3 linked regions of the Homo sapiens genome follow. The protein of the gene in region 3 purifies or fractionates together with the protein of the main gene of each other region. This does not show direct contact. Each region holds a gene or a part of one and is shown on either strand. Other genes may lie near its edges.

Region 1 (3,507 bases), on a different chromosome or scaffold from region 3:
GGGTTTTCACCATGTTGGCCAGGATGGTCTCAATCTCTTGACCTCATGATCTGCCTGCTTCAGCCTCCCAAAGTGCTGGGATTACAGGTGTGATCCACCACGCCCGGCCGATCCCCACTTCCTAAAGTGGTTAGCTATGCAAAATAAAGACCAGGAAAGGCAACTCAATATGATTCATCTTTATGAAAGCTGACAAGATTTCAAGATAAAACGACTTTTTCCCTGCAGACTGGGGACTAGGGGTTGGTATGTTCTCAAAGTTATTTAACAAACTGGCTTCCTGATTTTGCTATTCTGGGGCTGTAAATATCACGTTATCAAAGCAGGGAGCACAAATGACCTCGCAGCTAAAAGCCAATCCATCAAGTCAGTCAGGTGGGGCTCTCTGAGGTCTGCTGAGTCAAAAACCCGTGTTCCATTCCCGGTCCCTCATTTCCTGAGCTGGAGGGAAGTAGAGGAGGTGAGACTTTCCTGAGCTCTGGGAAAAGGATGTGGTGGAGGGCACCTGGCCCACGGATGGTGTTTAAGCCTGTAGAGGGATCTGGGTACAACTGATGACTAAGTTCAAAGCAAGTTTGGCTCTGCCTTGAATCCACAGAACACTTGGAGTGATTCAACTTGGGGGTTCAACAAGATTCTTGGGTGGGAGAAAGGAAAGGGAGAAGACAATGTTAGAGGCAGCCACCTAGGCCCAAATCCACTTGCTACCCACCAAAAGCACAGCGAGGAGGAGCTGTCTGGGACATCGGCAGTTAACCAGTGCGTGCCCTGGAGCTGGGCCCACTTTTTATAGGCGTGCAAAGACCCTGCCATGAAGACTTTGCCATGACAACCAGCTGTGACGAGCACTGGACATGGGGAGCCCTTGGTTAGAGTGAATATGTAGGTGCGATACAGGGCCTGGCTTGCTGGGAGTCTGGAGGGCCACCTGGTGGGAACTTACCTTCCACCTCATGAAGACGTAGTCTCCATTCTTCAGCTCTTCATAATCAAAGTCATCTGAGTTAAATGATTTTGCATACTGATAAAAAGCCAGAAACTTGCCCTGAAAGCAGAAAAGAGAGTGTGCCGATTGACTGAGAGAAGGAGAGGCTGCTCTCAGAACTATGCTTATGTGCCCAGGTAAACTCACCTTCCCAAGGCATGACAGCTAGGGACGTGGCTCCCAAAAGGGCAGCTAAGACCAAGTAACAGATGGGGCCCTATGGTCACCCCATTGAATGCAGACTCAACCCTGGGGCAGATACCTGGACTCCAGCTGGGGCCCCACTGCCCTACACCTGCCTTGTTAACATGGCTGAGGAAAAGGCCAAAGGATGGGAATGGTGAACAGACAGACAAAATAAACAGACGAAAGCTAAGAAAAATTAATGAGAAGACCTCTGCAAGTAAATCCGAAGTAGCAAAAAGAGCCATGCAAAACAGCTTAGAAACAGCCTGCCCAGTCTCAGAGAAGAGGGCTTTGTGAAGCTTGTGTCTCTGCATGATCTAGGGGCTTGGGCCAGCTAGCTAAGCAGACACTAGAAACACATGATAGCCTTGTCCTTCGATATCTGCGAGAGATTGGTTCCAGGACCCCCATGAATACCAAAATCTGCAGATGCTTAAGTCCCAGATATAAAACAGTGCAGTATTTGCAGATAACCTACACACATCCTCCCCTATACTTTATAGCATCTCTAGATTGCTTATAATACCTAATTCAATGTAAATACTAAGTGAATAGTGGTTATACTGTATCGTTCAGGGAAAAATATCAAGAACAAAAAATCTATACATCCACTGGGTGTGGGGGCTCACGCCTGTAATCCCAGCACTTGGGGAGGCCAAGGCAGGCAGATCACAAGGTCAGGAGATCAAGACCATCCTGGCTAACACGATGAAACCCTGTCTCTACTAAAAATATGAAAAAATTAGTTGGGTGTGGTGGTGGTCGCCTGTAGTCCCAGCTACTTGGGAGGCTGAGGAGGAGAATGGCGTGAACCCGGGAGGCGGAGCTTGCAATGAGCCGAGATCGTGCCACTGCACTCCAGCATGGGCAACAGAGCGAGACTCTGTCTCAAAAAAAAAAAATCTATACATCATCAGTACAGATGCAATTTTTTTTTTCAAATATTTTCAAACTGTGGCTGGTTGAATCCACAGATACAGAACCCACATATATGGAGGGCTGACTACATTTACAACAGGAGATTAGGAATAGGTTACAAAACTGTATTTTATGATCCCATTTTTTAAAAAAAAGACAAAAAACAAGTATACACTGTATACCCAAAAGAGATTCAGGAAGAGGTTAACAGCTATTTTAGTTTTAGGTGTTGCCATAGATGACTCCTTTTCCTCCAGCTTTTCTATTTTTTCAAATATTTTTAAACAAGCATGTGTTAATTTGATAAGAAAACATCTTAAATAAAAAATCAAGACACAGAGATATTAAGTCATAGATTTTGTCACATAGATTTATTTTATTATTATTTTTTGAGACAAAGTCTTGCTCTTGTTGCTCAGGCTGGAGTGCAATGGCATGATCTCAGCTCACTGCAATCTCCGCCTCCCAGGTTCAAGTGACTCTCCTGCCTCAGCCTCCCGAATAGCTGGGATTACAGGTGTGTGCCACCATGCCTGGTTAATTTTTATATTTTTGGTAGAGATGGGGTTTCACCATGTTGGCCAGGCTGTTCTCGAACTCCTGACCTCAGGTGATCCATCTGCCTCGGCCTCCCAAAGTGCTGGCATTACAGGCATGAGCCACCACACCTGGTGTCACATAGACATTTTTATCCTATGTAGACTGAATATATGGAATCCTGACTTTATAGTACCACTATAATAGCAACTTAAATACCACTCAGGAAAATCTGAGGATGCAATACAATATCTCTGATTCTAGTTTATAATGAAAAAATGACAGCCTAGGTGAAGTGTATTAGACATTGTAAATCTCAGACAAACCCAGGTGCAGTACAGAGCTCCAGGAGTCCCACGTGGGAACCTGGGAGTCCTCCATGAGTGGTGAAAGTTAGGGGAAATGCTGAGTACTACAAAAGCAGCCACAAACTGTTGGAGGAGGAAGCACTCCATAGGTTCAGCTCCCTGGCTCAACCACACCTCACATGCCAGTACCAAGGGTGGCCTTCTTAGTTCCTCTCTCACCCAAAATGTTTCAGTCCAGTCTAGCAGAGTCTGCAGATCCAGATATCTTCCAATGTTCTAACGGAAGTCAATGGGAAAATTAAGAGTTGCTTTCCAAGTATTTAATTTGTAGTCAACCTAGCCTAAAACTGAGTGTCACTGGGCCTCAAAGACTTTGCTTTTTGCAGGACCAATATGAAATGGAAAATAGAGTTGAATGGGAGAGAGGCTGTGGTTTACTACAAGGAAGAACCTTCTACTCTGGGACTGTACAGGAGAGGAAGGAGCCATCTCGTGAGGCAGCAAGCCATGCAGGAAGAGCCTAGCCCTGGGCAGGGGTGGGCGCAGATGGTACTAGGGAGCCCTTCCAACTCC
Region 2 (3,507 bases), about 79 Mb from region 3:
CACTAATTTGACTTATTTAAATTGCAATTTGAGATAAGCCCACTTCCATTGGGTTCAGATTTTAACTTCCAAAAAATTAATTTTCATACAAATAGATTTTGTTTAGAAGAGTGTAAATCACAAGCATAAGAACAATTCATAAAGCTACTTAAAACTGCATTAAGTTTAAGCAAATTAAACACCATTGTATGTTATCCATTTTAAAAGTACACTAGGAACATCAGCTTATCAGAGGTATAAGAATAAAGTTATATACTTCTAAATTACTCTAAAATGCAACCTTTCCATCCTGATGTATTTTGGCACCTGCTATGTGTTCTGCACTATCTAAGAAAAAAAAGACAAAAACATGGTTTCTACCACTGAAAACCTATTTTGTACAGACTTTTGACTGACTGAGGCAAGCTTTGGCTCCCAATTAGATATCCTGCCAAGTTATAAAAGAATACAATCTAACTGGTAAGTACTAACAAAGAAATAAATTTAAACACAACAGAAGAAATTCAGAATGTATGCATGTATGGAAGATCATCTTTTGAAAAAAATCATAATTAAAATGGTTTTGTTGAGGTCTTTGGTCAGAATTTACCTACAACCTTGAAAACAAACAAAGGAACTTGCTGGCAAAAAAATACATCCCTTTATTAGTTAGTAAATTGAAGCAATTAAGTTCATCTAATCAAAGAACAAAGATTAGCTTTATAGATTCTAAAGAATGTTAATGTTCTTACCCATAAGACCAATGGCTTGACGCAACTCATGATGTTCTACTGTGCCACTTCCATCTTGATCAACAGTCATGAAGTTTTCCTTCCAGGCATTAAGAGCTGCCCATAGCTCTTTGAATGCATTAAATCCCATTTTTCCTGTGTGATCTCTCTGATAGTTTTATTAACAAAAATAAATTCTGATACCTGAGTTTATCTGACTCTAAATCATTGACTAAAACATGAGTATGCTTCTGTAGACTTAGCCAAACTCATTATATGAACAGACTTCTGCATAAAAACTAGAAAGCCTAGAATTTAAACAGGATCTTACAAAGTATTTTTAAATTCACTAGTTTACTACAGGCACTGAAATCTAACCACTGGCTTGATAGTCAGAAAGCAATTACTCTTTATTCTAGTATTTTCTATTTCTATTCAAGGATACATCCAACATGGCAATCATAATTCTGCAGGTTTCCAAACTGAAGGCTGTAAAACATATTCAATATTTAAATTAGAGTATGCCCAACTTTATCTATGTAAAATTATGACAATCTCCAGTTTCAAAATAAAACATTAAAAAACTGCCAAAATATATAAAATCACCACAATCAACAAGCTATTATTGAATGTTAAGCACCCATTGTTTAAAAAAAATTACTGCCTTCAAAGTACTCACATCTAGTGAGGGGACTAAGTTAATTAAATGAGCAATTACAAACTAACTGAAAATTACTGTGACAAAGACATTCCAGGTATGTAAAGCACTTGGCTTCACCCAAGCCTGGGGAAAAGGAAGGCTTCCAGTCTTCATAACACAAATGACAAGTGGAGTTAAAGTAGAAGTTTGACATGTACTCAGAGATCACAAAACTTGCATTAAAGTATATGGGAGAGAGTGACATATGATGACATCAGAAAGGCAAATGAGGGCCAAATCATGAAACTTTTGAATACTACCCCCAAAAAGTTTGGGCCAATGAAAAGCCACTGAAGTGTTTTCAGAAGCAGAAGGGAAATTCTAAAATTTCCATTTTAGAAACTTAGTTTACAATGAATAAAATATAAAGTGAGATGATATTGGAAATAGGTAAGTCCATTGGTAATTTATTGTAATAGACCAAGTAAGAAAAAATGAGCATCTGAATTGAAGCAACTGGTTTTTCTCGGGGGTTGGGGGGAGAAAAAAGGAAGAAAAAATCAATACAAGCTATCTTAAAACCAGGGGTGATTTGAAATATTAACACTTTCATATTTATAGAACTACAACTGATGACCTATTGATAAAATTCAATTTTTCTAATCCTTTTCTAATTTTTCTAATCCAATTACATTCAATTTGTATGCTGACATATCTCAAGACTAATTTCATGCCCTGATAAAGAAAACATCACGTTAGTACAGTTTAAATTTACAAAGTGCTTAATAGCAGCTTGTTAATATGAATGAATGAAAATTTTCAAAATTATTTTATCCATAACATCTTAACATTTTATAAAAGCAGAAAATTATTTCAGCTAAATTTTAGACCCACTAAAGAAAAAATTATAAGACATTCCAAGAGTTAAAATTGCTGATTTTCTTTAAATGTTTAATATAGTATCAATGTTAGAATTGTTGGTTGTAGTATTTTCAAATTGACAACTCAATAGATACTCAATGTGTTCTTAGCATGAGTAAGGTGGCGTGTGTTACATGATTTCACATAAACATGCTAAACGTATAATAGTTCCAATTGTAAAAAAGGAAGAAACTGGGACCCAGAAAGGCAGTTCCCCACGTTTACAAAGCTAAGGCTATACAACTGTCAGAGTGAGGGGATTACATGAGAAATTTCTGGAATGGTATTTCCTCTTTTGGGCAAGTAAATAATATCTATTTTGCTTTACAATTAACTTGGCACACATTCATAAAGTGGGAGAATCCGAATTAATGATAATAGATCGCTAAAACTGAATCAGCAAATGAGCAGATCTTCAATCTCAGAATAGGAATGTGTATGTATAAGAAGAAATATTTAGGACAAAGAGTGGAGAGACAGACTTTTCAGGAAAGTTGACAGATTTTTCACTTCCTCCCCATAGCCCATTAGAATGGAGAGTAAACTGATTTAAGGCATAAAACTTTAGAGAAAAAGAGAATTAGACAGGAAACAAAGTAACAAAATTTTGCAAGTTGAAGAGCTGATGGATGTGAGTTAACCAACCTAGATCTGAGAAAATGGATTCCTGAACTTGTAATGAGAAAAGCTGAGAAGCAACCCTTGGAGAAGACCCCAAATGCCAAAGAATTGGCAGTACTTCTGAAAGTGGGTGTGAAAGTGGAGATAAAAACAGAAGAATTGGCTGAATGTCTACCTAAGGAGCATTCTAAGCCTCATATCCCCTCCCTGCCTCGGTTCAGTTGGATGGATGCTACACCTACTTCCAACCCAGCAGAAATCTGGAATTTTATTCTCTGGAGGAGTCTCTGAAATGTAAGATACCAGAGCTGAGACAGGGCTATCTTCTAAAAGCAAGGCAATTAAAGGACAATTTACAAAAGATTTGAGAACCCTTCTGAGTCCACCTCTCCTTTCCAGGCAGAAGGTCAACTGAAAACCCAGTCCAAAAGGGAATCCCTAAAGATACTGACACCCAGAGTTCCAAGACAAAACTGCCCAGCCAAATCACCATACAGTGAAGCCCACAATCAATGCCTAACCATGATCTCAGGGCTTCTAATCAGCAATTTAGTTAAAATAAGAGCAAAGCAGTATCATCAGATAACTGAGAAAAGCACCTAACATGAAAGACAA
Region 3 (2,867 bases):
CGCGGCGTTCCTTCCCGTGGCGATCTGCACGGCCTCAGGCGTGTGGCCCAGCACCGCGATGAAGAAGAGGAAGACGGTGCCCGTGCCAGCATCGTGCACAGGGCAGGGGTTCATGGACCGGTGCTCCGCCAGGGCTGCTGTCCCCAGCACGTGCAGGGCACCCCACTGCCCAGAGGAGGAAGTTCCGCTGACCAGGACGTCCAGGGACCTGGGCACAGCCCCCCGCAGGGCACCCAGGATCGCTGAGCCTGGTTTGCTCATCTCTACCTCGGGCATCTGCCTGCCGCCGCCACCCCCGCCCCATCCCGGGGTGTGCAGCCCCAGCAGATCCGGCCACTACACCCACACAGAGCCCCCGGCCACTCACTCACCCGCACGGAGCCCCCGGCCAGCGTGCCCCTCCTCAGCACCAGGCGGTGGGCGTGGGAGTCGTCAGGGCTGAGCCGCTGCTCCACAAAGGCCAGCAGGGTGGGCCCGGGGGGCACGGGGAGCAGCGAGGGCACGCGGTAGGTCAGGCCCGTCCTCTCCCGCTCGAAGAGCACTGTCCGTGAAGGGGTACGAGGGACCCCCATGCTCTGCTGGTCAGTACAGGGCCACAGGTCAGCAAGACAGGCCCAGGGAGCCCCACACTCGCTCCCGGTCTGGACTGGGGAATGCGCTCAGGAGGTGCAGACAGCTCCTGCCCACACCTGGGCCTCTTCCTGTACCCACCTTGGGGTCAGCCCTGTTTCTGACTCCCTCACCCCAGATCTGGAGCAGCCCCTCCCCCACCCTCCCTCGCACCCACTCCACCCCAAATGTCTGTGGAATCAGCCCCTTCCCCTCTCAACACGGCTCTGGGAGCTGACCCTCGGCCAGGCTGGTTGGTGCCAGGGTGCAGGGGAGGCTGGCCAGAGAGCCCCCGGGACCCTGCCAGCCATGTGCCCAGGACACAGGGTCATCCCAGAATTCGCCCAGCAGGAGGTCATGTGGACAATGAGGACCCAAAACCTCGAGCAAGGAGGAGCTCAGTGTCCCCAGAATAGAGGCCACAGCACCGTGGAAGCCACAGCAGAGACACAAAGAGGTGAGCCCACAGGGACCTGTGGGAGCCACGGGGCTCTCTGGGGACAGGGGATCGGCTCCCACTTCCTGAACGTCATCGGGGGAGTCACGGGGCTCTCTGGGGACAGGGGATCGGCTCCCACTTCCTGAACGTCATCGGGGGAGTCACGGGGCTCTCTGGGGACAGGGGATCGGCTCCCACTTCCTGAACGTCATCGGGGGAGCCACAGCCAGGGATCCTGCAGGGGACAGGTGCTTGGTGATCAGACCCCTGCCTGCAGGCAGCTGGCCCCACAGTGCCCTCATTCCAGTGCCTGGTGCTTCCCACCTGCAGGGCCCTGACCTGAGAAGCGCCCACAGGAATCAGAAGCTCCAAAGCCGAGTGGGGCCCGGCGGCCATTCTGGGAGTTTGCTCCCAGGCAACACCCACCAGGGCAGGGCCCGGGTGAGGGGGCATTTGGGGCACGCATGGGGTCTGCTTGTTGCAGGCGGGACCTGCCTGGGGGGTCTCTCAGTCTGATCGCACAAAGGCAGACGGAGCCGAGCGTGAGCACGCACAGCCCGGCACAGGGAGGTGGCACAGCTGCAGACAGTGGGAACGCTGGTCCTCCACCATGCAGGAGCGGTCAGATCCACGGCCAGCCGCCCAGGCCGGGCACACGGGGCACCTGGATGCGGGGCTAAGGGAAGGAGGGAGGAGGGAGATGGCCGGATGCCGGACACCACGCCTGGCCAGGGCAGAACGCCTGCCTACGACGGGGACCCATGCACACCCACGGGTCAGGCGGGACCCACTGACAGAGACCCGGGTAAAGGCGCAACACTCGTGTAAAACCCAAGCAGGCCTTGCCCCGACACCTGAGGCCCAAACAGACAGCTCCACCTCCAGCCACCTCTGCCCTGGGCCACCGGTTCCTGAAAGGCTCTTGGCTAGGACAGCTGGCCGGCCCCTTCCTGCCGCTCCCCCACCACCAGTGCGCGGCTTCTGAGAGCAGCTTCCGTCCCCAAGAAGCCCCTGGCTCTGCTCTCAAAGGGCAATTGTGCCCAAGCGGGAAGCAGGTGCAGACGCCATGTGTCCCTCTGGGCTGAGCAGGCACAAGCAAGACATTCTCTCTGCACTTGGCTCCCTCCCCAAGGCCCGGACCACAGGAGCAGGTGTCAGCACCCCCTGCAGACATGAGGCCCAGGCCCACCCCTGGGGACAGAGAGGGAGAGGAGGAGACTCCAGAAACCAGCTGGTCACTCCCCTTGTTGCACAGAGGGGAAACTGAGGCCCACAGAGAGGACAAGGCTGACACACACTTGGCTTGGGGCTTCCTTGCCACGGCCAGGCCCTGGGTTCCACAGAGCCTCCGTGTCCTCCATGTGGCCAGGCCCTGGGTTCCACAGAGACTCTGTGTCCTCAGGAGGTCCCTCTGTCTTGGGGGACCAGCCGTGCTCAGTGTGGCCAGGCCCTGGGTTCCACAGAGCCTCCGTGTCCTCAGTGTGACCAGTTCCCTGGGTTCCACAGAGCCTCCGTGTCCTCGGCAGGCCCCTCTGTCTCGGAGGCCAGCCCCGCTCAGTGTAGCCAGTTCAGCACATTCCAGGGGTTTGGCTTGACTGGGACAGCCATGTCCTGGACATTAACCAGTGCCCCCCGCCCTCCCTGACAGGGCCCTCCTTGGGGGTGTGGAGTCACAGAAGGGGAAACCGAGGCCCAGGGGAGATGGGACCTCCAGGAGAACCTGGCCTTCTGGTCCGTGGACCCCTGGACCGGTTGTAGGGGTCACTCTGGCTCAGCAGGGGGCCATCACAGACCACCCCCCCCACCCCCGCCAACCCCT

The links. The genes of interacting proteins can lie anywhere in the genome.
Region 1: the proteins of NEU4 (region 3) and GID4 purify together in Homo sapiens (affinity purification with mass spectrometry; 2 studies listed by BioGRID and IntAct, with this or other methods). This does not show direct contact.
Region 2: the proteins of NEU4 (region 3) and GCA purify together in Homo sapiens (affinity purification with mass spectrometry; 2 studies listed by BioGRID and IntAct, with this or other methods). This does not show direct contact.

What each region holds. Positions count from the first base shown.
Region 1 is NC_000017.11:18,056,406-18,059,912, reverse strand, and holds part of GID4 (glucose-induced degradation protein 4 homolog), read right to left. Parts: intron 3,211-3,507; coding exon of another isoform or gene 2,887-3,210; exon of another isoform or gene 2,442-2,886; intron 1,046-2,441; coding exon 944-1,045; intron 638-943; coding exon of another isoform or gene 614-637; exon of another isoform or gene 165-613; intron 1-164.
Region 2 is NC_000002.12:162,354,130-162,357,636, reverse strand, and holds part of GCA (grancalcin), read right to left. Parts: intron 1,200-3,507; coding exon 1,156-1,199; intron 880-1,155; coding exon 732-879; intron 1-731. UniProt on the Homo sapiens protein: Calcium-binding protein that may play a role in the adhesion of neutrophils to fibronectin. May play a role in the formation of focal adhesions.
Region 3 is NC_000002.12:241,812,190-241,815,056, reverse strand, and holds part of NEU4 (sialidase-4), read right to left. Parts: intron 1,725-2,867; exon of another isoform or gene 1,544-1,724; intron 579-1,543; coding exon of another isoform or gene 573-578; coding exon 372-572; intron 166-371; coding exon 1-165. UniProt on the Homo sapiens protein: Exo-alpha-sialidase that catalyzes the hydrolytic cleavage of the terminal sialic acid (N-acetylneuraminic acid, Neu5Ac) of a glycan moiety in the catabolism of glycolipids, glycoproteins and oligosacharides.